4 linked regions of the Homo sapiens genome follow. The protein of the gene in region 2 purifies or fractionates together with the protein of the main gene of each other region. This does not show direct contact. Each region holds a gene or a part of one and is shown on either strand. Other genes may lie near its edges. The genes, in order: VIPR1, ALG10B, KCNH2 and TRAFD1.

The links.
Region 1: the proteins of ALG10B (region 2) and VIPR1 purify together in Homo sapiens (co-immunoprecipitation; one large-scale study listed by IntAct). This does not show direct contact.
Region 3: the proteins of ALG10B (region 2) and KCNH2 purify together in Homo sapiens (affinity purification with western blotting, with the first as the bait; one study listed by BioGRID). This does not show direct contact.
Region 4: the proteins of ALG10B (region 2) and TRAFD1 purify together in Homo sapiens (affinity purification with mass spectrometry; one large-scale study listed by BioGRID and IntAct). This does not show direct contact.

Annotation. Positions count from the first base shown.
Region 1 is NC_000003.12:42,513,760-42,521,618, forward strand, and holds part of VIPR1 (vasoactive intestinal polypeptide receptor 1 isoform 1 precursor), read left to right. Parts: coding exon 1-95; intron 96-5,463; coding exon 5,464-5,571; intron 5,572-7,859. UniProt on the Homo sapiens protein: G protein-coupled receptor activated by the neuropeptides vasoactive intestinal peptide (VIP) and pituitary adenylate cyclase-activating polypeptide (ADCYAP1/PACAP).
Region 2 is NC_000012.12:38,317,401-38,325,259, forward strand, and holds part of ALG10B (dol-P-Glc:Glc(2)Man(9)GlcNAc(2)-PP-Dol alpha-1,2-glucosyltransferase), read left to right. Parts: intron 1-860; coding exon 861-1,058; intron 1,059-2,760; coding exon 2,761-3,813; 3' UTR 3,814-6,512; coding exon of another isoform or gene 6,513-6,524; 3' UTR 6,525-7,859. UniProt on the Homo sapiens protein: Dol-P-Glc:Glc(2)Man(9)GlcNAc(2)-PP-Dol alpha-1,2-glucosyltransferase that operates in the biosynthetic pathway of dolichol-linked oligosaccharides, the glycan precursors employed in protein asparagine (N)-glycosylation.
Region 3 is NC_000007.14:150,947,322-150,951,155, reverse strand, and holds part of KCNH2 (voltage-gated inwardly rectifying potassium channel KCNH2), read left to right. Parts: intron 1-35; coding exon 36-235; intron 236-735; coding exon 736-988; coding exon of another isoform or gene 989-1,257; exon of another isoform or gene 1,258-1,747; intron 1,748-2,106; coding exon 2,107-2,300; intron 2,301-2,612; coding exon 2,613-2,712; intron 2,713-3,277; coding exon 3,278-3,550; intron 3,551-3,641; coding exon 3,642-3,828; intron 3,829-3,834.
Region 4 is NC_000012.12:112,136,606-112,144,464, reverse strand, and holds part of TRAFD1 (TRAF-type zinc finger domain-containing protein 1), read right to left. Parts: intron 3,647-7,859; coding exon 3,241-3,646; intron 2,377-3,240; coding exon 2,170-2,376; intron 1-2,169. UniProt on the Homo sapiens protein: Negative feedback regulator that controls excessive innate immune responses. Regulates both Toll-like receptor 4 (TLR4) and DDX58/RIG1-like helicases (RLH) pathways.

The sequences.
Region 1 (7,859 bases), on a different chromosome or scaffold from region 2:
GGCCAGGCTGCAGGAGGAGTGTGACTATGTGCAGATGATCGAGGTGCAGCACAAGCAGTGCCTGGAGGAGGCCCAGCTGGAGAATGAGACAATAGGTGAGGCCCCCATGGGCAGAGAGGGGCTGCATGCCCCCAGGGAGCCCAAGATTCCTCATGTCTCAAGCTGAGATCCAAGTCACGTTCGTTCCACATTTATTGGATGATGGTGAGGAGCGGCTGGGGAGCCAGATGGAAGAAGAAAGGGGCTAACAGGCTTCCACATTCCCACCCCAGGTCTGGGGAGCTCCCAGCCGCAGCTAAGGAGGACATACTAAATTGGGGTTCTGAAAAGTACATGGAGCCAACTCTGCCTCTGGGGGTCCCTATCCCTCTTCTCCAGGAAAAGTGAAGATCTCCATGGCGGCCAGCCCACCCAGGACACAAGGCCCAGGGTGCTATGTGGTGGGGGATCTGTGACCAATGAGGGCAGGCAGGTTCCAGGACCCCCTGGAGCTGGCATGGGAGAATTAGCCCCATAACACCACACTCCAGGATTAGAACATTGTACTGTTAGCATCTCCAGAGGAAGAAGAGGCACATTCAGTCACAATATGTGACCCCCACAGGGACCACATGGAAGCTCAAAGCCATCTTAGTGGTCCCGAGCAAGAAGGGGCACAAGTTTTGTCTGGAAAGATGTGGAATACTCACCACAGCCAATATTCAGCCTGGAAACTGAGGCCCACTCCTCCCTCTCAACCCCAGGCTCTGCCTCTGCTACATCCAGAGGACCGATAGTGACACCACACACACACACACACACACACACACACACATACACACACGCCCAGCCCCTAAGCATACACATACAGGCAAACACACTGGCCTCTCCATCCCAACCCACCCTTAGTGGCCAGATGAACCATCAGCTCATTATTCGGCTGATGAGACAAGTCAAGGTCAGCCCCAGGGGCTGAGCACATGAGGGCCCCAGCCACTCCTCCTCAGGGGGCTGGGAGAGCCCCACCTGGCAGTGTGAAGGGTAGTGCCCAGCTACCAAGACTGGACAGCAGGGCTATCAGGACAGATGACAGCACCCTCCTTTTGACTCAGCAGCCCCAGGTAAGAATGGATGGAATTCTTTGGTACCACTTGAACCAGACTTGGAGGGGTGAGCAGGTTTGGAGAAACAGAGAGTCTGGGAAGGTGGGAGGCACTGAGGCAGACTTCCCATGGGGAGTGGGGCATGGTTGGCAGGTTCAAGTCTTACTGCCAGGGACACCAGCCTGGCATGTCTGGGCTGGAGGCATGAGATGGCTGGGCCCGTTCTGGGCCTCCATCCCAGGCCATCTCCCCGCGGCTGAGCTTACAGTTATGTAACAGCCTTGCTCAGGAGCAGGGAGCATCTTTACGTCTTCCTGGCTCCCTAGTTCCCCTTCCACCTCTCTAAAGCTGACAGTTATGTAACCCCTTCTGGGTCCCTCTTCTTGGCCCTGGTGCCCAGGCTGTCTGCCTCCTGTTCTGTAAGTGAGTATGTGTAGCCTCACAGATGGGCTTTGCCTACCCTTGTCTCAAAGCAGGACAACCCCTTGACTCTAGGGCCCAGAGACTGAGGCATGGGTCACGGGGTGGCTGGGCCTGCCCACTACCTACAGGCCCCACCCCACTCCACCAGTGCAGGGAGCCAGGACCAGGTGCAGACAGGCTTTGGCAGGCCCCAGCGGTGGGATCATAGGCAGCCCCAAGAGGCCCAGACTCTAGACTCCACTGCGCACCTCCCACGCCTGGGGACAGGCCACCCTCGTGATTCCAATGAGGTCACTGCTGGCACAGCGTTCCCGTCGGGTGCCAACACCCTGTCACCAGCAGCCAGGCTGGGATGCAGAGAAGGGCCAGCATAGGTTGTGGCCATGGGTCTGCCCGTGACCTTCTGTAGGGCTCTGTGCGTGTTCATGCACATCTAGGTATGCGCTCCTGGCCCATGTCTGTCTGGAGCTGCGTCTGTGCCTCTGGGGTCTATAGCTCTGTGTCTGACTCTGAGTATCTTTGTGAGTCAGAAGTGTGTGTCTATTTAAGCTTGGGCACATGCCATCTCGACATGCCTAGATGTGTCTGCCCAGTGTGCTGTGTCTCTGTGTGTTGGCTTGTATGTCTATCAGTGTGAATGTCAGTGATACACCCAGACATGTCTGTCTCTCTGAATGTATGTCTCTGTGAGTTGTGTGTCTCTCTGTGCCCATTTGCTTGTGTCTGTGGTCTGTGTTCAGGTAAGTGTACATGTGTGCATGTTTGCATGTGTGCCTGGTGTTCTGTGTACTGGCATGTACATGTCAGTGTGTGTATCTCTGTGTGCACACAAGTCTACAAAATGACACAGCAGAGGCCCCACCTCATCTTGCCTCACCATCCCTTACCCCAAGCTCTGGGTTGGGCTTTCCTGCTGAGGGCACAGCCCCACCTGTGGGCACACACAGCCAGCCTGGGCCCTGTATTTCTGTAGGCCTGGTGACATGTGTGATGGGACCTATGGGGCCTCATTAGGGCAGGCACACAGGAAATACTCCCGTTGCCTAGCCCAGGACAACAGGCCATTCCAGGTACCAAGTATATTCATGGCTGTCACCCCGTCCCCTGCTTCCCTGACCATGTCCCTCATATTGGCCTCTCATCCTGCTCCCCTGCCCTGCTGGCTGCCCTACACCCCAGCACCAGTTCACAGCCCAGCCTTGGTTATGCTGAGATTCCTTGAGGCCAAGTGTGGCCTCCCAAGGGCAGGGCCTGGTTTCCTCTCTTCTGTCCCACTGCAGTGAAGCAGAGCTCAGGGCCAGAGACCCAGCCCCGGATTCACTCCCTGGCCTGTGCTGGCAGCCGGAGGTTTAGAGAGCCCAAAGTCTGGCAGGGACTCAGACACAATAGCCGGCCTACAAAACAGGGCGTGCCCAGTGCTGTCAGAGAGGGGTAAACAAAGTCCAGCAGCAGCAAAATTCCCAGAGAAATGACAGGCCTTCCAACCAAGAGGAGTGGGAATAGACTGTACCGCTTACCAGCAACATGACCTTGAGCTGGTTTTCTAATCAGTCTGTGCCTCCATTTCCTCATCTGTGAAATGGAAGCATTAAATAAGTTATTCATCCAAAGAGGTTAGAACAGTGCCTGGCACATGCAAATGTTATATGAATGTTTGCTGATATTCTTAACAGGGTCTTGAACCCCCAGCAGGGTTTGACTGACCTGAAGTGCCCCTACTCAGCTTTCAGAGAAGCTGGCCCAGAATGGAAGAGGGACTGACAGCCAACATGAGGCCACAAGAGCCCTCAAGACAGGTTGGGGGAAAAGTGGTCAGGGTCCATGACCAAGGAAGGCTGCAATCTCTGGCCAAGCCCTAGGGATCCAGGTGTCCTCCTCAGCCTTCAGCTATAGATGTGGCCTGACTGCTGCAGCCCCAGAAAGTGCCCCTTGCTGCTGCCAGCCCACTCCAATGCACACAGTCCCGAGGCTCTTCCCCAAGTAAACACATCCCTCCACCTCCTCTTCCCAGACCCCCTTCTTGGGAACTTGTGAACCTTCGGACCTGAGCTGGGCTGGGCTGGGCTTGGCCCAGCTGGCGTTGACTTTGGCTCAGGGGTTGGGTTTTCTGAGCAAATCTATGGGACTGGCAGGATTGCAAAGAGACAATTAAGCCTCCTGCATGGGATGGGTCCAGAGCAGTCCTAGTCCCTCACGGGCATGAAGCTTCTGAACAGACTAAATGATGGCATTTGCATGTGCCTATTCAAGCAGACCCCTAGAGACCACACTGTGCATCTTTCACTGGCCAGGCTCTGCAAGGCTGTGGCGGAGAATGCAGCCACAATGCAGGGTTTTCGCTGCACTTGTTCCCTAACTATTCCCCTCCATCACAATTCACAATCCGACCACGTTGGGGGAATCTGTGTTGTTCAAGAACTAGGTGCGGGCTGGGCACGGTGGCTCATGCCTGTAATCCCAGCACTTTGGGAGGCTGAGAGGCAGGTGAATCACCTGGGGTCAGGAGTTCGAGACCAGCCTGGCCAACATGGCGAAACCCCGTCTCTACTAAAAATACAAAAATTAGCCGGGTGTGGTGGTGGGCTCCTGTAATCCCAGCTACTCAGAAGGCTGAGGCAGGAGAATCACTTTAACCTGGGAGGTGGAGGTTGCAGTGAGCCGAGATCATGCCATTGTACTCCAGCCTGGGCGACAGAGCAAGACTATGATGGGGTGATGAGTATATTGGGATGCATCTAGTTCTTTTTTTTTTGAGACAGAGTCTCAAAACATTTTCTAATGCCTCCTTCACTATCATAATATGAAATTCAGGACACGTACCCATCCACTTTATAAAAAATAATGTTCTAGCTATACTGTAAAATAAATATTAAAAGGAAAGTAATTTACAATAAAGTACCATGTACATATTCAAGCATAACCACACTAGATGTAGTCTGAAGGTTGTACCTACAAATATAAATCCTGGGAATGTGAGGCCTACAAATGCAGACTGATGGACACAGGTAGTTGTATCGGTGACTCAAGTATCACAGGCAGCACTGCTATGGGTATCATGATTTTCCAAAACATTGAACAACTCTTAGTGAAGTTCAGAACAAAACAAAATACAATCTTCCCTCCCTTTTCTCAGTGGCTGCATTCCTGGAAAACTCCATGTATGTTAAACTTGTGCAATAAACAGCTTGTGTTGGCCGGGCGCGGTGGCTCATACCTGTAATCCCAGCACTTTGGGAGGCCAAGGTGGGAGGATCACTTGAGGTCAGGAGTTCGAGATCAGCCTGGCCAACATGGTGAAACCCTGTCTCTACTAAAAATACAAAAATTAGCCGGGCGTGGCGGCATGGGCCTATAGTCCCAGCTACTCGGGAGGCTGAGGCAGGAGAATTGCTTGAACCCAGGAGGCAGAGGTTGCCAAGGTTGCACCACTGCACTCTAGCCTGGGTGACAGAGTGAGACTCCATCTCAAAAAATAAGTAAGTAAATGGCGTGTGTTTATACATAAAATGGTGTAAGAGTCTAGGCTCTGGTCATTATGAAAGGTTTTCACCTATACATATGCCCAGTGGCTCATCTGGAAGCCATGCAGAATGTGAGACAATTCATCATTGTGCAGGAGTTGTCTGTCTGGCATCCCTGGTGACTGCCCATCAAATGCCAGTGAGGCCCCCCTATTGCTGCAACAGTCAAAACCACCACTGGCATTGGAAACATCCCCAGGGGGCGCTCCATCCCTCACTAAGGACCAAGGAACTGTAGTCAGGCCTCCTTCCTGCCTCCCTGTCAGGACAGCCCCGTGCAACCTCCGCAGGGCTGTGCCTCCCCTCTCAGACTGGAGGCTCCTTGAGGTGGGAGCCTGGCAGAGGGAGGAAGAGAGTGGGTGCCTATGGCCTCAGGCCCCAGGGCTGGAGGCACCTGCACTGTGCTCACCCATGTGTCTTCTGCCTTACCCCCATAGGCTGCAGCAAGATGTGGGACAACCTCACCTGCTGGCCAGCCACCCCTCGGGGCCAGGTAGTTGTCTTGGCCTGTCCCCTCATCTTCAAGCTCTTCTCCTCCATTCAAGGTAAGACCCCTGGGTTGAAGAGGTGATGTGAGTGGGGCCGGCTGGAGTGGGGACTCACCTCTCAAGGAAGTGGAAAGGCAAAGGAAAGTGGTCAAAGAGGCTGGAGCAATCCGAGGGACTCCCTGGCAGAGGAGGCAATGGTGCTGGGTCTTTAAAGAACTCACAGGATTTGATTAGCTCTTCACATAAAGATAAGCATGTGGGAAAGGCTCACTAAATATTTGCTCAACAATTGATAACTGATTGACTGACAGGTACTTGATTAAATTATGACTCCCATAGTCCTGTTGTCTTGGGCTGGTCTTGATTCAGTCTTTCGATGCCTGGAGCCTATGACCTCTTGGGCTCCATGAAGCCACCACATGACTTTGCTTACACACCTTGTCATGTTCCACTTAAATGAATGTCCACAGAATGAGGCAGAAAAGAAAAGGGGGAGCCCCTTTAGGAGGTGGCTTTCTAGCTAGTGAGTCATTAAAGAGATTCACAATATAGATTCAGTCATTCTTTTGTGCAGTGAATGAAGCACTTACCAGTGTGCCAGGCACTGAGCTGGACAAACACAGTGGAGAGAGGATAAAACAGCCCCCGGGGCTGCTCTCCCAGAGCTAGCATTCTCATTGGAGAGACATTTAGTAAGGAAATAAACAGATGTATCATCAATAATAAAAAGTGCTGGACGAGAGAATAAGGAGAGTGGGGACTAACTTAAGGCAGAGGTTCACAAACAGCCCCTCTCTGAGGAGGTGACACTTCATCTGCAATCTGAAGACCTGGAGGTGAGAAAGAACCACCAGGCAAAGATCCCAGATTGGGGACAACTGAGAGAGAGAATCAACAGCCCGTGGAACAAGCATCCAAGGAAGTTCCGTGAAGGCCAGTGTGGCTGGAGCAGGGAAAGCACCAGGGATGAAGGGAGGGGAGGGACAGGTGCGCCGAGGCCAGACCATGCAGGGCCTTGAGGACAGAAGCGAAGACTTGAGTTTTTTCCTAAGTCCAGTTAGAAGTGGGGGGTTTTAAGCAGGGGACTGACAAAGTCCAATTTAGATTTTTAACGTCTAACTGGTTTCTGTGAGAAGGAAGAATTCTAGGAGTGTAAACAGGAAAACCCAATCACAAGGCAGGCAGGAAATGATGGCTTGAATTCAGGTAGTGAGCTCAGTGCGGGAGAGAAGTGGGAGAGTTGTTTATGGAGGGAATGGGAGTGAGTGAGGCGAGGGAGGAATCAAGCAGGCCCCACCCTAGGCTTAGGTTTAATGAGCCTTAGGGAAGAGAGTGGGACTGGGTGGGGAGCATGGAGGGAGGGGCAGGCCTAGAGTGGGGAGGACTCATGAGGAGCAGAACTTATATAATTATTCAGAGAGCGAACAGAACTCAGGCATCTCTCACTCCAGATGGCCTTTTCCTCCCTGGACCCCAGTTTCCCCGTTTGTAAAGTGGGGATAGGTGGTAGACCCCAGGGTCTCTTTGGGGTAAGCCAGTTTGCCCCCCAGTGCCTGCTGTTGTGACCTCAGTAGTGAAAGATAGAACTTGAAGCCCTCCTGAGGAGTCTGGGAGGGTCACAGCCATGCCATATTCCAGGCCAGTGCCCACCTAGCCTGGTCACCTCCTCCAGGGACACCCAGTGCCTGGGCAGATAAGAGATGAGTTCCTCTGGCAGGTTTCACAGTGCACGCCATCACCAAGCCTGGAAACTAGCCTTCTCTCTGATCCCTGGAAGCACCTGCTAATTGCCTTTCTCCCTGAGACTCTGCTAACTGCATTCCTCCCCATGGCTCTTCCTTCTGTCCCTGCTGGAATGTGTCAAGGCAACTCCTGCCCTTGAGAACCTGGACTCCAGCCCACCATCTAGCTAACCCTGAGGCTGCCGCCATCAATGGGGCCCATACGGTGCCTTTGGACTGACAAGAAAAAGGCAGTCCTTCCTCGGGCAGAGATGACCTCTCACTAGAGCCCACCTAGTGACAAGCAGAATATGCCTACCGGCCAGGTGCCCTTGTAGAGTGAACAACTTGCACAGCCATACTCTGTGGGCCTGGTCTCTGAAAATGGTGGAGAGAAATAAGAGACTGCGATTAGGGACTGAAAACAGAAAAAAGACAGTGTTCTCCTGAGCAAGTAGATGAAGAAGTTGTGGGCAACCGACCTGAAATTCCAAAGAGGGAAGTTTGCAAGTGTGAGGCAGGAATGATGGCATCACCAACTCACACAACAGGCCTGGGAAGAATTATATCCACGGGAAGGGACCTGGTTATACAGGGAAAGCTAAATAAACCTTATAGAAGATA
Region 2 (7,859 bases):
TCAGAAAACTTCCCTTTAGCTCACCTGTTAAGCACCTCACTGTGCATTTTAGGGGTGGGATAGGGTGGACTGGAGGGATCTTCGGCTACCAAAAAGTGACAATTTATAATCACAAATTCCTTCCCTGGGTATTTTTAGTGAACTATCTGTTGACTGGATAAACTGGCAACCAGTCAAGTCACATCATTTTTGAATATATATTTGACTGTGCAAGTATGTACATATAAATATCAAAATAAACATCCCCTGCTTTTCTGGTGACACAATATAGGGTACTGGCTAGAAATATAAAGTCTGTTTTAGAGAAAGATCTGATCTTAAATCTTGGTGCTGTGATTTACTAGTTTTGTGATCTTGGAGATGTTCTGAGTTTCAGAAATTCAGGTTACTCATCTGCAAAATGACAATAATCTTTACTATAGGGCATATTGTAATGTTACAATACAGAGGGTTTGGCACAATTTCTGTCTCAGTTTATGTCAGCTGTCATCATGGAGCCTGTGGTCCAAATGTTTTCCTAAACTTAGAGTCCCAAACAATGTTTCCATGCTTTTAAAAACTGGAGCATTTGCAGTTTATTTATCAAAATAAAGGCTTTTAAAGAACATTTCTTGGAAAATAGAAATAGATTTTAAGTTGTTGTTTATTGGTTGCTGCTACCTGAACCATCACTAAGCTGGTCCGGGGGCAAAAAATAAGAAAAACTAATCCTGTTCTGCCAAGGACTTACTTAATCTTGTCATAGACTAACTTCTCAAAATTTCTGATTGTTGCTGGAGATGAGACTTGGGCTTGACATATTTGTGTCTGTCTTGTTCGTATTACCTCTTGCTTTTACTTCATTTTCTTTCATTTTAAAGTGGGATCCCATGATTACTACATTACCTGGCTTGTACCTGGTGTCAGTTGGAGTGGTCAAACCTGCCATTTGGATCTTTGCATGGTCTGAACATGTTGTCTGCTCCATTGGGATGCTCAGATTTGTTAATCTTCTCTTCAGTGTTGGCAACTTCTATTTACTATATTTGCTTTTCCACAAGGTACAACCCAGAAACAAGGTATGTTTCAAAATACTTAATTACAAGTTTATGTGTAGTCAGGTCCACAATTACAATGAATTAGTTTTATGAGATTTGGTGAAAAATGTCTTTAACACTTTGTAACTTTGTATTTTTTGTATATTATGTAAAGGTAAATTTAAATTCTCCATCTCCATTTTAGAATAAATTTGTATTTAAATACTTGAATAACTTATTTGTAAACTCTAAAGTAAATATTTGTTAAGTGAGTCAAACCAGTTCAATAAATACTTACTGAGCTTATTCCATGTGCTGGGGACTGGGACTACAGAGATAAATGAGGCAGTCTTTTTCTTGTAAAACGTATATATTCAGTAGGGAAAACAGACTTTACCTGAGGACTTTTGATGTGGTAATAGTGCAGGCCCCGGAGGTCGATTGCCTGGGTTAGAATTCTCTCCCTGCCACTTAACCAGTTTTGTTACTGTGGGCAGGTTAACCCTTAGTGGCTCCATGTCTTCATCTGTTAAATAAGAATAACAATAGAATCTGCCTTATAGAACTGTTATAAAGGAACAAGGAAACTTAATAAATGGAAGATGCTTCAAATAGTGCCAGATATATAGTAAGGGCTCAGTAAATATTAACTCTAATAATTATTTTTAACCTTAAGAGATTATTTCAGTAGTGTCAATTATGATAGAGTAGTAGACATAAGATGCTATGAGGACACAGAGAAGGAGCAGGGAAACACTTACTGCTTTTCTGGGAGGGAGAGGAGTATGTGGCATTCAGTAAGTCCTCACAGAGAAGATGGTACCAGAGCTGAGTCCTGATGAACGGATAGGGCTGTGTAGGGTGAGGAATTAATCCTGGGGAGACAAACAGCATAAGCAAAGGAAGAAAGGCATTGAACAATGAGGTGCAGGGAATTGGTCTTGGAATTACAGGATTAGAAAGTAGAGGGATGTAAGGCTAGAGAAGTAGGTCATGAATGCCCTCATATGTCACAGAGAGGACTTTGAACTTTAGCATGTAATGGAGAGACCTTAATTTTAATCAAGGAAATGACATGGTCTGATTTAGTGATTTAGATTAAGTGGAGTATACAATTCAAGAACATAAGAACACTTTCAAATTCTGAAATAGCATGTCAGAAAGGCCAAAATAAGATATATAAGTTTAGACTGGCTCACTTTTCAGAAAAATACCGTTATTTCATCATGAAAATATCATCTTGAAAAAGTAAGTCTGGATATGGTAAAATAAATACCATATGCATGTTTACATTCTCCCTTGTGTAGTGTTATGAAGGATTTCCTTAAAGGAAAGTGGTGATTATGGCTAAGTGAATCCTTATTGAAGGCACTAAAACATAAGCTCAGGGAAATGGAGCCAGCATTGTGTCCTATTTATCTCCATAGTCCCCACAGAACTTAGTCGGTATCTTGCACTCAGTAACTCCTTAACTAATCATAGCCTGATTCAAATTGTGTTAAGCTATAGAAGCTTTGGCATACACACGGTCTCCAAACTGATAGGTATAAATAAAAAGTACCAGGAAGTGTTCTTATAAATGTTTATTGTGTTTTTGCAAAGCCAGAGATAAGATTAATATTGATTAATTTTATTTAAATAAGGTTTGAGTAGTTGAGTAGTTTTAAATAAATCTCTTCATTAGGTAAGCAGAAATAGCATTTATCATTAAAATAATTGTATCTGTGTTTTTTCTTCCTCCAAGGCTGCCTCAAGTATCCAGAGAGTCTTGTCAACATTAACACTAGCAGTATTTCCAACACTTTATTTTTTTAACTTCCTTTATTATACAGAAGCAGGATCTATGTTTTTTACTCTTTTTGCATATTTGATGTGTCTTTATGGAAATCATAAAACTTCAGCCTTCCTTGGATTTTGTGGCTTCATGTTTCGGCAAACAAATATCATCTGGGCTGTCTTCTGTGCAGGGAATGTCATTGCACAAAAGTTAACTGAGGCTTGGAAAACTGAGCTACAAAAGAAGGAAGACAGACTTCCACCTATTAAAGGACCATTTGCAGAATTCAGAAAAATTCTTCAGTTTCTTTTGGCTTATTCCATGTCCTTTAAAAACTTGAGTATGCTTTTCTGTTTGACTTGGCCCTACATCCTTCTGGGATTTCTGTTTTGTGCTTTTGTAGTAGTTAATGGTGGAATTGTTATTGGCGATCGGAGTAGTCATGAAGCCTGTCTTCATTTTCCTCAACTATTCTACTTTTTTTCATTTACTCTCTTTTTTTCTTTTCCTCATCTCCTGTCTCCTAGCAAAATTAAGACTTTTCTTTCCTTAGTTTGGAAACATGGAATTCTGTTTTTGGTGGTTACCTTAGTCTCTGTGTTTTTAGTTTGGAAATTCACTTATGCTCATAAATACTTGCTAGCAGACAATAGACATTATACTTTCTATGTGTGGAAAAGAGTTTTTCAAAGATATGCAATTCTGAAATATTTGTTAGTTCCAGCCTATATATTTGCTGGTTGGAGTATAGCTGACTCATTGAAATCAAAGCCAATTTTTTGGAATTTAATGTTTTTCATATGCTTGTTCATTGTTATAGTTCCTCAGAAACTGCTGGAATTTCGTTACTTCATTTTACCTTATGTCATTTATAGGCTTAACATAACTCTGCCTCCCACATCCAGACTTGTTTGTGAACTGAGTTGCTATGCAATTGTTAATTTCATAACTTTTTACATCTTTCTGAACAAGACTTTTCAGTGGCCAAATAGTCAGGACATTCAAAGGTTTATGTGGTAATATCAGTGATATTTTGAACTGTAAAAATGGACTTAATAATTAGACCATTTCTACAAAGAACAACTGAATAGGTGGAAAACATGGAATTTCTTTTAGGTGCAGTGGTGGTCCTCAAATTACATTAGTTTTTTTAATATATATTTTAAACATATGTAAGAAATTAAGTGGCAAAGAACTGGGAAAGCTTAAGACCTGCTTCAAAAGCCTGAATAATGGGAAAATAAAATTGTTTTCAGATATCTCATATCGCTCTCGTAATGTTGGCCCCTCACAAAGCTTGGGAATGTTTTGTATGTATAAGTTTATTAAAACTGGGTATGCTTCATATTACTAGAACTAATTTATTCTCTTCAGAGAGAACTATTAGGTTAGTGCAAAAGTAATTGTGGTTTTTGCCATTGAAAGTAATGGCAAAACCACAATTACTTTTGTACCAACCTAATAACAATGTGTTAGCAAATATTTACAAATGGTCAGGTGATATTCTTGACTGAAAAGTTCCTTAACATTTCAGTAAATATAATTTTAATTCTAAGTCAAAATAGAAATGCATAGATAGTAAATGATAAAGTAGAGACTCATATATGTCTGTCTAGGCATCAAATTGTTGGTTATTGTTTACAATCCAGAAATGATGAAGCTCTTTCACTAATTCCTAATATGAAATGTATGATGGCCAAAGACAAATTGTGTTGATTATAATCCTTTAAAAGGGGGATTTCCTTTATGAAATACATATTGTATTAGCTTCCCAGGGCTGCCATAACAAATGACCACAAACTTGGGTGCTTACAACAATTTTCCTCACAGTCTGGAGGCCAGAAGTCTAAAATCAAAGTGTCAGCAGAGTTGGTTCCTTCTGGAGGCTCTAAGGAAGAATCCATTCTATGTCTGTTTCCTAATATCTTGTGGCTGTCTGCAATTCTTGGAGTTCTTTGGCTTATGGGCATATCTTGTCTAAGTATTGCAGACAGCAATCTTCACTCCAGTCTCTGCCTCTGCGTTCACACGGCCTTTCCCTCTGTCTTTTCATTACCTTTTAAGGACAGTGTCTTTGAATGTAGGGCCCACCCTGATCTAGGGTGATTGTGTCTGGAGACCCTTAATTATGTTTACAAAGACCCATGTTCCAAGTAAGTTTGTATTCACATGTTCTGAGTAGACATTGTCTCTTCATGGGATACTTTTCAGTCCATGACAGTTACTAAAGGACATTTTAGGATAATCCTCATATGATTGTTAGGAGACTACCTTTAAAAATTTTTTATTATATATCAAATTATAGTTGTATATACTTATGAGGTACGAAGTGGCATTATGATTTTTGAATATAATGTGGGATGATTAAATAAAGCTAATCTATCCATCACCTCAAATATTTGACATATTTTGTGATGAAAACATTTGAAATGTACTCTCAACAGTATTGAAATGTACATACAGTGCTTAATTATTAGCTGTATTCACCATGTTGTGTAATAGATCTAAAAAAAGTCAAACATATTCCTTCTATCTAATTGAGGCTTTGTATCTTTTGATTGTCATCTCCCTATTCCCACATCCCCGGCCTCTAGCAACCATCATTCTTCTCTCTACTTCTGTGAGTTTAATTGTTTTAGATTACACAAATAAGTGAGATCATGTGGTATTTGTCTTTCTGTGCTTGGCTTATTTCACTTACCATAATGTCCTCCACGATCATCCATATTGTTGCAAATGACACAATTTCTTCCTTTTTAAAGGCTGAATAGTATTTTTTTGTATATATATGCCACATTTTCTTTATCCATTCATCCATGGATGGACACTTAGGTTGATCGAATCACTTGGTTATTGTGACTTGTCTGCAATGAACATAGAGTGCAGACTTCTCTTTGACATACGGATTTCAAATCTTCTGGATAAATAGCCAGAAGTGGGATTGTTGGATCAGGAGATAATATCTTAGCTGATACCTTTTAAATAACTCTCAGTATCTTTACTGAGAGGTTAAAAAATAAGTGACTTCTTAGGTAATATAAAGCTAAAGGTGACTAGTGTTTGATTCCATTATCTATTAAAAAAAGTCAGAATTGAAAGAAAGTTGAGAAATCCTTTGGTCTGACTTTGTAGATTAGGGAACAACTGCTGGGGTAGGATTATTTTGTGTTACTTTTTGAATTTTGTGTTTATTATTTTGAGTGTATTTTTTGGGTTGTCATTCCATTACAGGAAAGTATTATTTGGGCATGTTAACTTTGACATGTAAACTTAGAATTGTGAATAGAACTCATCTTTTAACATAATTTTATGTTTCTAAACTTTAAAAGTAGCTATAAGTGAACAAATTACTTTCCCCTCAATGTCAAATTTTGCTTCTCTGAGTTTTAAGTGATGAGTCTACATTTACAAATATAAAATTGTGTGCAGGTGAAAATTACAAGTATAATTTGAGTAATAAATGCAGGCCATTTTTTGGTTGTACTCTAGTACTCAGAAAATAGATCGGCATTAGTTATAACAGTGATTGTAGAAAAACGTGTTTTACCCAGACTTCTTAAAAATTAGATGAGAGAGGACACTCAAAGAAATTATACTTTTGTCATTAATTTACTATAGTGGAGAACTAAATCTGGGAAGTCAAAATTGAAAAAAGAATGTGTAATTTAGGGAAAGTAACTTTTTGTCTGATAATATTAATGCAAGGATTTTGTATTTAGGAATACTTCTGAGAGGAGAAGCTTCCACTCTGATCTAGTCTGGCAAAATTGAGGAAAATATTCTACCCTGTAATTAAAGAAGACTGCTCTTTGGAGGGATCACTGTTCTATATCTTTTTTTGTTTGTTTTTGTCTTTGAGGAGAAGTCTCGCTCTTGTCCCCCAGGCTGGAATGCAATGGCGCGATCTTGGCTCACTGAAACCTCCACCTCCTGGGTTCAAGCAGTTCTCCTGCCTCAGCCTCCCGAGTAGCTGAGATTATAGGCGCCCACCACCAAGCCTGGCTAATTTTTTCTATTTTTAGTAGAGCCGGGGTTTCACCGTGTTAGCCAGGCTGGTCTCGAACTCCTGACCTCAGGTAATCCACCTGCCTCGCCTCCCAAAGTGCTGGGATTACAGGCGTGAGCCACTGTGCCCAGCTCTTCTAGTTCATTTTTAAGTGTTGAGTCCCTGCTGTTTAAGAGATGTTTTGGTGAAAATCTACATTCAGAGAGAAACAGGTTAATCTTCCACATTTTTTATAAAATACATAAAATATAGTACTTGGCATTTTAAGAAAAGAATGCCATGTATTAAAAGGTGCTATTTTCAACTATTTATTATTTTAAAACAGGAATGCTTATCAATACTTTCGAATTTAAGATAAATGTCTTCGTTAAATTTTCTAGGCAGTTCAAAGATGGCCATTTGCTGGTGAATTTTCCAAAATAGATAACAGATAAAATGATTATGTAAGAACTTGGCACAACAGATCATTTTGCCTTTAGTCGTTCAAGAAATGATACTAAACTCAAAGTCATTCACTTGAAACAACTGAGAAGACCATTCTTAGGTGTTTAGATCCTTGCTTTTAGAAACATTCTTAGTTATATTTGTGTTTTCAAAAGTTATTGAGTAGATAGATATTTTTTCATGAATTTTTAAACATTAGACTTAGCTGAATTGATTAAAATTAGGTGATTATGAAAAAAATATTGCCCTGCTCGAGGGCATCTGGAGCCCTACAGTTACCATTACTAAAGTCTGTGAGTATGTCTATTTTGAAAAGTGTCATAAAAATATCTAGTCCATAAATCATTATAGGTTCAGTAATACATCATTTTGAACTGATTCTATCTTCTGTGAAATTCTAGAGATATGTTATCTTTAGGTAGCATGAGTAAGATTCAGGTATGCTGTGAATTTTGTTAACGTTTATGTTTTCCATTAATGGATAGTCAGGAATCTTTTGAACTGCGTCTATGTATTTAAATGATTTGGAAAGATAGCATCTCTCAGTTTAAACTTAGCATCTCATTTTGGCAAGATAAATTATTTTAGCTGTCTGGCCTTTTCTTTGTCTTCTTAG
Region 3 (3,834 bases), on a different chromosome or scaffold from region 2:
CAGAGGCTGACGGCCCCACGTGCCCACGCCCCCAGCCCTCATGTATGCTAGCATCTTCGGCAACGTGTCGGCCATCATCCAGCGGCTGTACTCGGGCACAGCCCGCTACCACACACAGATGCTGCGGGTGCGGGAGTTCATCCGCTTCCACCAGATCCCCAATCCCCTGCGCCAGCGCCTCGAGGAGTACTTCCAGCACGCCTGGTCCTACACCAACGGCATCGACATGAACGCGGTGAGGCCACCAGAGCGTGGCCAGTGGGTGGCAGGCTGGGAAGAGTGGGGTGGCAGAGGGGAACCTCTTGGCACAGCAAACAAGTCTCAGGCGGTCACAGTCAGTAGTAAGGACCCTGGAGGCACGTTGCCCCTTTTTGCCCATGAGGAAATGGAAGCCCTTGGAACCCCTTCCCTGGAGAGCTCCCCTTTTGGGGTGGGAGGTATATGTCACATAGGCGATGGGGTTAAATCCTTGTGACAGCCCAGGGCGGGAATGGTCTCTATGCCTTACAAATAAGAACATGGAGGTCTAGAGCCCAAGGGTGCTCGGCCAGGCATGGTGAAGCTGGAGTGGGGTCCCAGGTCCTTCCCAAGACACTGGGCCCCCTGATGCTTCCGAGATCTCCCAGGCCTGGAGGTTGAGATTTCTCTGACATGGAGGGGTGGGATGGTGGAGTAGAGTGTGGGTTGGGGGGTCCCAAGGGAGGGTGTGCTGAGCTGCCCCCACCCTGCCCCCAGGTGCTGAAGGGCTTCCCTGAGTGCCTGCAGGCTGACATCTGCCTGCACCTGAACCGCTCACTGCTGCAGCACTGCAAACCCTTCCGAGGGGCCACCAAGGGCTGCCTTCGGGCCCTGGCCATGAAGTTCAAGACCACACATGCACCGCCAGGGGACACACTGGTGCATGCTGGGGACCTGCTCACCGCCCTGTACTTCATCTCCCGGGGCTCCATCGAGATCCTGCGGGGCGACGTCGTCGTGGCCATCCTGGGTATGGGGTGGGGGGCGGGCACTGGACTGGAAATGCCCTCTGCAGCCTCAAGAGGTGCGAGCCTTCTGAATATGCAGTCACTGGGGCTGTGGACCTGGGACTGCCTGCAGGGTCACTGGGCTCCTTTAATTCACCTAAACTCAGGCCCTCCAAGCGGGGCCATGGAGAGGAGCCCCACGTGGGGTGAGGCTGCTGAACTCTGGGGTTCCCACATTCTCCTTCCCTTCAGGATCCGCCACAAACAGACACTTTTTGCTTCCTTAAAGTAGGATCAAATCTAGATCCTCTAGCCTGGGCAGTAGAGGAAGAAATGCTAGCCTGGAAGCTCGGCATTTGGTTTCACTAAGGGCCATGTGGTTCCCTGCAGCCTCATGCCTGGCCCCTTGACACATCCAAAGCAAAGGGAGTCCTGCCCCCTCCCCCCACTTCCTTTCTACCCTGCCTGTGCACAGTGGGTGGGTTGGTGTGTCTGGACACTGAGGACTTCCTCCCCCTTTGCCTGTCCTTCCCTCGGCCCTGTGTGCCTCAGGGCAGATATAGCAAGCTCTTTCGACCATAGTTGATGGTAGGACATTTTAGACTTTGTTTCTCAGCTCTGTACAAACACAAATACACACCCCCACAAAACTAAAATCAAAGTTTCACTACATAACACTGGGCCTTACTGCATGTGGTTCATTCTAGCATTTCTGTTCTGTGCTGTGCTAAGCTATACTACTGTATGTTCTTTCAGTAAAAAAAAAAAAAAAAAAAAAAAAATGCTGGTTTTGATTCACTACTGTGTTCTGATCTTTGGTTTGAAGAACATTGCTTATAAGGGTGCAGTGATTGGCTAAGAGGGTGTTTGGGACCTGGGGTTTGGGGTAGTCCTGCTGGCTGGGTCTCATTTGCTGGGAGACCCTGGGCTCCTGGCCCCTCTGGCACTGTCGTGCCTGCTGGGAGCTGAGGGAGGGTGGGCTGGCAGATTGCTTCCCCGGTTGTGTGGGTTGGGGGCCGGCTGGCAGGCGACCCAGCTGAGGGGACATGCTCTGCCCGGGGTGGGGATGCCGGGAGAAGGTGCCTGCTGCCTGGATGCCGCCCCCCGGGGCTGAGCTCCCTGTCCTCTCCATGGCCTCCAGGGAAGAATGACATCTTTGGGGAGCCTCTGAACCTGTATGCAAGGCCTGGCAAGTCGAACGGGGATGTGCGGGCCCTCACCTACTGTGACCTACACAAGATCCATCGGGACGACCTGCTGGAGGTGCTGGACATGTACCCTGAGTTCTCCGACCACTTCTGGTCCAGCCTGGAGATCACCTTCAACCTGCGAGATGTGAGTTGGCTGCCCTGAGCTGGACCCCATCCTCCTGCTTCCAGCTGTGTGGCTGCCCCTTTGCTGTGTGACATTGAATGTGATGCTTCTCTGTCTCAGTTTCCCTGTCTGTCAAATGGTATCATAGAGCAGCCTACAAAAGTCCCAAACTCAGTCTTTGCCTGGGGCAAAATCACATTGGGGGCAGGGAAGGGTTTTCCCAGAGCTGGGGCGCCCAGCCCTACTTTTTCTGTGTTAAGGAGGGAGCTTGGGGCCTGACCCCGGTGGGGCAGGAGAGCACTGAAAGGGCCCTGATACTGATTTTGGTTCCAGACCAACATGATCCCGGGCTCCCCCGGCAGTACGGAGTTAGAGGGTGGCTTCAGTCGGCAACGCAAGCGCAAGTTGTCCTTCCGCAGGCGCACGGACAAGGGTGAGGCGGGGGAGGGGAGGAAGGGGGAGGGCGGGGACAAGGTGAGGCTGGGAGCTGGAAGGCGGGGTGGGCCGTGTCTGCTTTACCCAGGCCTCAGACCTTCCCATCCCTTCCTCCAGTGTGCCCACTCCACACCCCAGCTGTCCAGATGCTGCCCATCTTTCAGGGCCCCTGCAGCTGTCACCTCCTCCAGGAAGCCCTCTTCCACCCTCCAGGGCAAGCCTAGGCTTTTTGGACTTCACAGGGCTGGGGTCTCTGTGAGCACTGAGGAGGAAAGAACATAGAACAAAGGAGGGCCAGGGAGCCAACGATGGGGCTGAGGCCCCGCAGTCCCAGAGATCCGCCAACCCCTGAAGCACCATTGCCAGTGCTTGGGCAGTCAGGGGGTCCTGGGAGTTCTTGGTCGGCTTGACAGTGGGTGCAAGATAGCAGAAGAAGCGACTGGGGACAAACCAGGGCTTCCTGCCCAGTCCTCTCTCGGGCTCGCTCCTGTCCCCTCCTCCACCCTCGCCCCCTCCTCTCTGTTCTCCTCCCCTCTCTGAGGCCCATTCTCTGTTTCCCACAGACACGGAGCAGCCAGGGGAGGTGTCGGCCTTGGGGCCGGGCCGGGCGGGGGCAGGGCCGAGTAGCCGGGGCCGGCCGGGGGGGCCGTGGGGGGAGAGCCCGTCCAGTGGCCCCTCCAGCCCTGAGAGCAGTGAGGATGAGGGCCCAGGCCGCAGCTCCAGCCCCCTCCGCCTGGTGCCCTTCTCCAGCCCCAGGCCCCCCGGAGAGCCGCCGGGTGGGGAGCCCCTGATGGAGGACTGCGAGAAGAGCAGCGACACTTGCAACCCCCTGTCAGGTATCCCGGGCGACGGGCGGGCGAGGGAGGACCGGGCGTGGCAGCGGTGGTGCGTCTACCCCGCTCACCCAGCTCTGCTCTCTGGCTGCAGGCGCCTTCTCAGGAGTGTCCAACATTTTCAGCTTCTGGGGGGACAGTCGGGGCCGCCAGTACCAGGAGCTCCCTCGATGCCCCGCCCCCACCCCCAGCCTCCTCAACATCCCCCTCTCCAGCCCGGGTCGGCGGCCCCGGGGCGACGTGGAGAGCAGGCTGGATGCCCTCCAGCGCCAGCTCAACAGGTGAGG
Region 4 (7,859 bases), about 74 Mb from region 2:
ACCCTGTCTCTACTAAAAATACAAAAATTAGGCGGGCATGGTGGTACAAGCCTGTAATCCCAGCTACCCTGGAGGCTGAGGCAGGAGAAATCACTTGAACCCCAGAGGCGGAGGTTGCAATGAGCCAAGATCGCGCCATGGCACTCCAGCCTGGGCAACAGAGGGAGACTCTGTCTCAAGAAAAAAAAAAAAAAAAGTCCAGGCCAAAAGCTTAAAGTTACCCCTAATGGTAGTATCTCTATGTGCCTGCCAGAAGCATTTATAAATTCTCAGAGGAACATGCTAGAAAACTTGGTGTTCACACACACACGTAGCAAGCCTCCATGAACAGGAGACGCAGAAACAACATAGCAAAGAAACAGTTTTTGCTATTTTTGGACACAAAAGAAAAATAAGTATATTTAACATGTTTAAAGACATGTTAAAGAGGGAACTATGCTGGGCGCAGTGGCTAATGCCTGTAATCCCAATCCTTTGGGAGGCCGAGGTGGGGCAGATTGCTTGAGTTCAGGAGTTCGAGACTAGCCTGGGCAACATGGTAAGGAACCATCTCTACTAAAAATACAAAAAAAAAGGTAGTGGTGCATGCCTGTGGTCCCAGCTACATCGGAGACTGAAGTGGGAGGATCACTTGAGGCCTGGGGGCGGAGGCTGCAGTGAGCCGCGATCACACCACTGCACTCCAGCCTCGGTGACAGAGCAAGATCCTGCCTCAAAAAAAAAAAAAAAAAAAAACCAAAGCGGGAACTGTAATATGACTATGGAACAAAAGATTATTTTAAAAATTAGGAGGTACAATGAGGAAAAGGATCAAACAGAACTCAAAATGAAATATATAATCACTAAGTGAAAATCTTAAGGGACACATTAAACAACAGATTAGAAATAACTACGGAGAAAAATCAGTGAACTAGAAGACCGATAAGAAATTACCCAGAATGGCTGGGCGCAGTGGCTCACACCTATAATCCCAGCACTTTGGGAGGCTGAGGCAGGTGGATCACCTGACATCAAGAGTTTGAGACCAGCCTGGCCAACATGGCGAAACCCCGTCTCTACTAATAATACAAAAAATTAGCCGGGCATGGCTGGGCGCAGTAGCTCACGCCTGTAATCCCAGCACTTTGGGAGGCCGAGGCAGGCGGATCACGAGGTCAGGAGATCGAGACAATCCTGGCTAATACAGTGAAACCCCGTCTTTACTAAAAATACAAAAAATTGGCCGGGTGTAGTGGTGGGCGCCTGTAGTCCCAGCTACTCGGGAGACTGAGGCAGGTGAATGGCGTGAACCCGGGAGGCGGAGGTTGCAGTGAGCCGAGATCGTGCCACTGCACTCCAGCCTGGGCAACAGAGGAAGACTCTGTCTCAAAAAAAAAAAAATTAGCCAGGCGTGATGGCACATGCCTGTAATCCCAGCTACTCAGGAGGTTGAGGCAGGAGAATCACTTGAGCCCAGGAGGCAGAGGTTGCAGTGAGCCGAGATCGTGCCATTGCACTCCAACCTGGGCAACAAGAGCAAAACTCCATCTCCAAAAAAAAAAAAAAATGTTCAGAATAGTATAGCAAATACCCATATACTCCTCATCTATATTCACAAAGCTTAATATTTCCTCACATTACTTTTATGTATTTTTCCCCTGAACTATTTGAGAATAAGTTTGAACACATAACATTTTATTCCTAAGTACTTCATCATGTGCCTTTGAAGAACAAGGGCACTGCTTTCTCCTATGTAAACAATACGGATGTCACTCTCAGCAACTTTAATGTAAGTTCTCTACTTGTACAATAATGTCCTTTAGAGCCTTTTTTTTTTGAGACAAGGTGTCACTCTGTCACCAGGCTGGAGTGCAGTGGCACAATCTCAGCTGACTGCAACCTCTGCCTCCTGGGTTCAAGCATTCACCTGTAATCCCAGCTACTTGGGAGGCAGAGGCACGAGAATCACTTGAACCCAGAAGGCAGAGGTTGCAGTGAGCCGAGATCATTACATTGCACTCCAGCCTGGGTGACAGGGCGAGACTGTCCCAAAAAAGAAAAGAAAAAAGAAACAAAAAAGAGTAAGGCAAATTCTATTTCATTAAAATCTTTCAATTGTATAAGAATTGTATAACCTAAGACTTACAAAAACTGTAGAGAAAGAGGCTAGTGCAGAATAAGCAAGCCTACCCTTTATGTCACTGAGAGACCTGGGACCGCCATGAGACTGGTCGGCCTCACATACGGCCCTCCAGAAGTCCTGCTCTGCCACACTGGAGGCTTGGCCTTCATTTTGCAGACTTAGGGCCAACATGAAGTCCAAGTTTGCACTCTCTTCACCACCCTCTTTGGGGGGCTGTTGGCCTCTATTCCTTTCCTGCCTCTCTTGTTCTTCAACTGAAAAAAAAAAACCAACCAACATTCAGGATACATTAGAAATGTTACCACCCTCAACTCAAGTCCATGCCTAGCAAATAGTCAAGGTTTACAGGCATCCGGGAAGGAATAAAAATGACCATGTTCAACTAGCTCTCTTCACCCTCTGGGTCTCCTAGCTTTGAACATTAAAGTCTGCCCTGTGAAAAGGCTCCATTATTATTCTAACTGTATTATTAAGCAATATTACTGAGCCATAATTATGAGACAGGCACTGTGCTAAACATTTTATACTTATTTTCTGAATTACAGTAGAATGGTTTAAAGCACGAGGTCAGATTATCTGAATTCAAATCTCAGTTCTACCTTCAAATTTACCTACCTTCAAATAATGAGAGAATTAAATGAGTTAATACGTATAAAGCACTTTGCAAATGCCTAAGGGAAATAAGATACAGGTTGAGCATACCAATCCAAAAATCCAAAATTTGAAACTTTTTGGGCATCAATATGGCTCTCAAAGAAAATGCTCACTGGAACATTTTGGATTTCAGATTCTCAGATTTGAGATGCTCATCCAGTATATATAATGCAAATACTTCAAAAGCCAAACCACTTCTGGCCCCAAGTATTTTGGATAAGGGATACTCAATCTGTATAAGTGTTGGCTATTTACAACACTGTCATCATACTCACCATTATGAACCCTAACTATAATCCAATGGAGGTTATTTCCATTTTATAGGAAAGAGAGGTATTCTTCCCAGTGTTACTCAGCTACAGTCGGGTTTCTATAATCAAGATCTATCTGGCCCCAAAGCCCTGTTCCCATTTGCCTTGGGATTTTGATACCATTCTAGTTCCCTAATCCCAAGCACAACTCACACAGATTATTCTGAATTGAAACCTGGGCTGTAATGTTCCTTTGGTTGGTAGTTCTATTGTGGAAAACATCTGATTCAAAGGCTCTCAGGGGCCTTCGCGGCAGCCTCATGGGTGGGTCCAGAGCCTCAATTTGTCTGAGGAGTTGGGATGCAATCCAGATTCCATCCTGACCCCAAGATTCATCATATGCATTAGGAGGTATGGCAACCTCATTTCTCTTTTCCTCCCCCTCTCTCCCACAAACTTCAGGGTGAGTCTTCAGATCTTTCACAAGGACATTGCGACCACAGTTGCCACATAGTTCCGTCCGGGCACCACAATAATCTTCATGTTCCTTCAGTTTGAGAATGGAAAGTTCTAAATCACAGTGCTGGCAGACAGCAAGCCGCAAAGGGCACTCAGTCTCCTACAAAACAGAGGAATGAGGCAGTTAATATGCATATCTAGGAGAGGTGTGTTTTAGTATAGGGCAAGGAAAGCCAAGAGTATCTACTGCAATCTTCTCTTCCAACCCTTGATTCTCCTACCCTTTTTTAATGTATTTAATTATTTAAGAGTCACAGCTTCCCCTTTTGTTCCTGCCACAATGTTCTATAAAGGAAAATAAAATATTAGAGGGAGCCCACTACTCAGCCACCCTAACTATCATATTGTTTTGTGCACACATTACTTAGTAATCTAAAACCAGCCAGAGAAGCCCAGGAGCAAATAACAAGAATCATAGCAAGTCAGATGTTTGTCAAAGCTCCAATGTCCCTGTCCCCTACCAACTATTCCAATTCAGTCTTTTTTTTTTTTTTTTTTTGAGACAGTGTCTCGCACTGTCGCCCAGGCTGGAGTGCAATGGCGCAATCTTGGCTCATTGCGACCTCTGCCTCCCAGGTTCACACGATTCTCCTGCCTCAGCCTCCTGAGTAGCTGGGATTTCAGGCACACACCACCACACCCACTTAATTTTTTGTATTTTTAGTAGAGACGGGGTTTCACTATGTTGGCCAGGCTGGTCTTGAACTTCTGACCTTGTGATCCGCCCGCCTCAGCCTCCCAAAGTGCTGGGATTACAGGCTTGAGCCACCACGCCCGGCCTCCAATTCAGTCTTAAGTACCTAATAATGAGGAAAAGAAACTGCACTTTAGAAAGACACAGGTTTCTCTAACCTTCATATTTGTATTTAGCACAGGCTTTATTTTTCATTTATTATTATTATTTTTTGAGAAAGTCTTGCTGTCGCCCAGCGACAGAGTGGTGTGCATGGAGTGCATGGTGCAATCTCAGCTCACTACAACCTTCACCTCTCGGGTTCAAGCAATCCTTGTGCCTCAGCTTCCTGAGTTGCTTGGGACCACAGGTGCGTGCCACCACACCCAGCTAATTTTTTTGTATTTTTAGCACCGAAGGGGTTTCACCACGTTAGCCAAGTTGGTCTCAAACTCCCATCCTCAAATGGTATGAGCCACTACTCCTAGCAAATCCGTGTTATTTATCTAATAAAAGAACTTTGGGACCTGGGCAATGGCCCACGCCTGTAATCCCAGCACTTTGGGAGGCCAAGGCAGGCAGATCACCTGAAGTTAGGAGTTCAAGACCAGCCTGACCAACATGGTGAAACCCCACTCTACCAAAAATACAAAAATTAGCAGGGTGTGGTGGCATTCACCTGTACTCCCAGCTACTCGGGAGGCTGAGGCAGGAGAATTGCTTGAACCCGGGAGGTGGAGGTTGCAGTGAGCTGGGATAACACCACTGCACTCCAGCCTAGGTGACAGAGTGGAAAACAAAAAAAAAAAGCTTTTGAAAAAAAACTTTCTGAATTGGCATTATATCTACATGGTATCAAATTTTATTTTTTAATTTTAATTTTTCTTTTCTTTTTTTTGAGACAGGATCTCAGTGTCACCCAGGCTGGAGTGCAGTGGTACGATCATGGCTTACCGCAGCCTTGACCTCCTGGGCTCAAGCAATCCTCCCACCTCAGCCTCCCAAGTAGCTGGGACCACAGGTATATGCCATCATGCCTAGCTAGGTTTTTTGTTTTATTTTTTATTTTGTAGAGACAAGGGTCTCCTTATGTTGCCCAGGTTGATCTCAAAACTCCTAGGCTCAAGCAGTCCTCCTACCTTGGCCTTCCAAAGTGCTGGGATTACAGGCGTGAGCCACTGTGCACAGCTGGTATACAATTTTAAAGCCCAAAAAGGATATATGTAAAAATCATGTCTCTTCTCCCCTGTTCCTCTGCTACCTAAGGCCTTTTTATCAATTTATTGTGTTTCCTGCAAGAGGTAGTTCATGTATATACAAACAGTGCTGAAAATGTTGGAGTAGCATTTAGAATAGAACTTTAGTTTAATTTTTTTTTTTTTTTTTTTGAGACGGAGTTCGCTTCTGTTGCCCAGGCTGGAGTACAATGGCATGATTTCGACTCAGTGCAACCTCTGCCTCCTGGGTTCAAGCAATTCTCCTGCCTCAGCCTCCCAAGTAGCTGGGATTACAGGAGCCTACCACCACACCTGGCTAATTTTTGTATTTTTAGTAGAGATGGGGTTTCACCACTTTGGCCAGTCTGGTCTTGAACTCTTGACCTCATGTGATCTGCCTGCCTCAGCCTCCCGAAGTGCTGGGATTACAGGCGTGAGCCACCACGCCCAGCATTTTTTGTTTTTGTTTTTGTTTTTTTTTGAGACAGTCTCACTCTGTTGCCCAGGCTGGAGTGCAGTGGTGTGATCTTGGCTCACTGCAACCTCTGCCTCACAGGTTCAAGCAATTATCCTGCCTCAGCCTCCCGAGTAGCTGGAATTACAGGCATGCGGCACCATGCCTGGCTAATTTCTGTATTTTTAGTAGAGATGGGGTTTCACCATGTTGACCAGGCTGGTCTTGAACTTCTGACCTCAAGTGACCCGCCCTCCTCTGCCTCCAAAAGTGCTGGGATTACAGGCTGAGTCATTGCGCCTGGCCTACCTTTTTATTTTTATTTTTATTTTTTTGAAACAGGGTCTTACTTTGTCGCCTAGGCTGGAATGCAGTGGCACAAACAGGGCTCACTGCAGCCTCAACCTCCAGGCTCAAACAATATCGTACCTCAGCCCCTCGAGCAATTGGGACTACAGGAACGGACCACCATTCCCAGCTAATTTTTTAGTTTTTTGTAGAGATAGGGGTCTCACGATATTGCCTAGACTGGTCTTGAACTCTTTGGTTTAAGCAATGCTCTCGCCTTGGCCTCCCAAAGTGCTAGGATACAGGCATGAGTCACTGTAGCCCGCTGTGAATTACCTTTAAGGGTAATTTAATTATAAATTAATAAAATCAAGTTGTTACAGTTTGAGGCACACAGAATGAAATGCACAAATCTTTAAGTATATACCTTGGTGAATTTTTACATATGTATATCCACTCTTCTATAACTACCATATAAACAGCTGTTTGGATTTTTATTTATTTATTTTTATTTATTTATTTTTTTAGACGGAGTCTCGCTCTGTCGCCCTGACTGAAGTGCAGTAGCGCAACCTCGGCTTACTGCAAGCTCCGCCTCCCGGGTTCACGCCATTCTCCTGCCTCAGCCTCCCAAGTAGCTGGGACTATAGGCGCCCGCCACCACGCCCAGCTAATTTTATGTATTTTTAGTAGAGACGGGGTTTCACCGTATTAGCCAGGATGGTCTCAATCTTCTGACCTCGTGATCCGCCCGCCTCAGCCTCCCAAAGTGCTGGGATTACAGGCGTGAGCCACTGCGCCCAGCCAAGAAATGAAGATCAAGGCTGAGGGATGCTCCCTACTGAATGGGAAAACTGTCCTTGGTTCCACATGGGCTGTAGACACAGCCCTTCTGCCAGCAACTGTTCCTGCAAGGAACTTGTGCTCAACTGAACAAACTGTCACGTGGTTCCTTGAAGGGGCACAGCACTGATTTCACTTGCATTATAAAAGACTGAGTGGTGCTTTTGACTGTTTATGTCAACACTTGAAAACAAGGTGAGCCAGTTTTTTTTTGTTTGTTTTAGATGGAGTCTCACCCTGTCACCCAGGCTGGAGTGCAATGGCACGATCTCGGCTCACTGCAACCTCCACCTCCCAGGTTCAAGCAATTCTCCTGCCTCAGCCTTCTGAGTAGCTGGGATTTCAGACGTGCGTATCCACGCCCAGCTAATTTTTGTATTTTTAGTAGAGACGGGGTTTCACCATATTGGCCAGGCTGGTCTCGAACTCCTGACCCTGTGATCCACCCACCTCAGCCTCCCAAAGTGCTGGGATTACAGGCATCAGCCATCACGCCCGGCTGGATTTTTAAATTGGTGAATTAACATACTCATTCAACGTTGGCCAGTTTTGGCCAGATGCCATAGCTCACGCCTGTAATCTCGACATTTGGGAAAGCCAAGAAGGGAGGATCACTTGAGGCCAAGAGTTCGAGACTAGCCTGGGCAACATAACAAGACCCCAACTCTATGAAAAACAAAAATAAATAAAATTAGTCAGGCATAGAGGCCTATACCTGTAGTACCACCTATGCAGGTAGATCATTTGAGCCCAAGAATTCGAGGCTGCAGTGAGTTATGATCATGCCATTGCATGCTAGCCTGGGTGACAGAGTGAGACTGTGTCTCTTAAAAAAGGT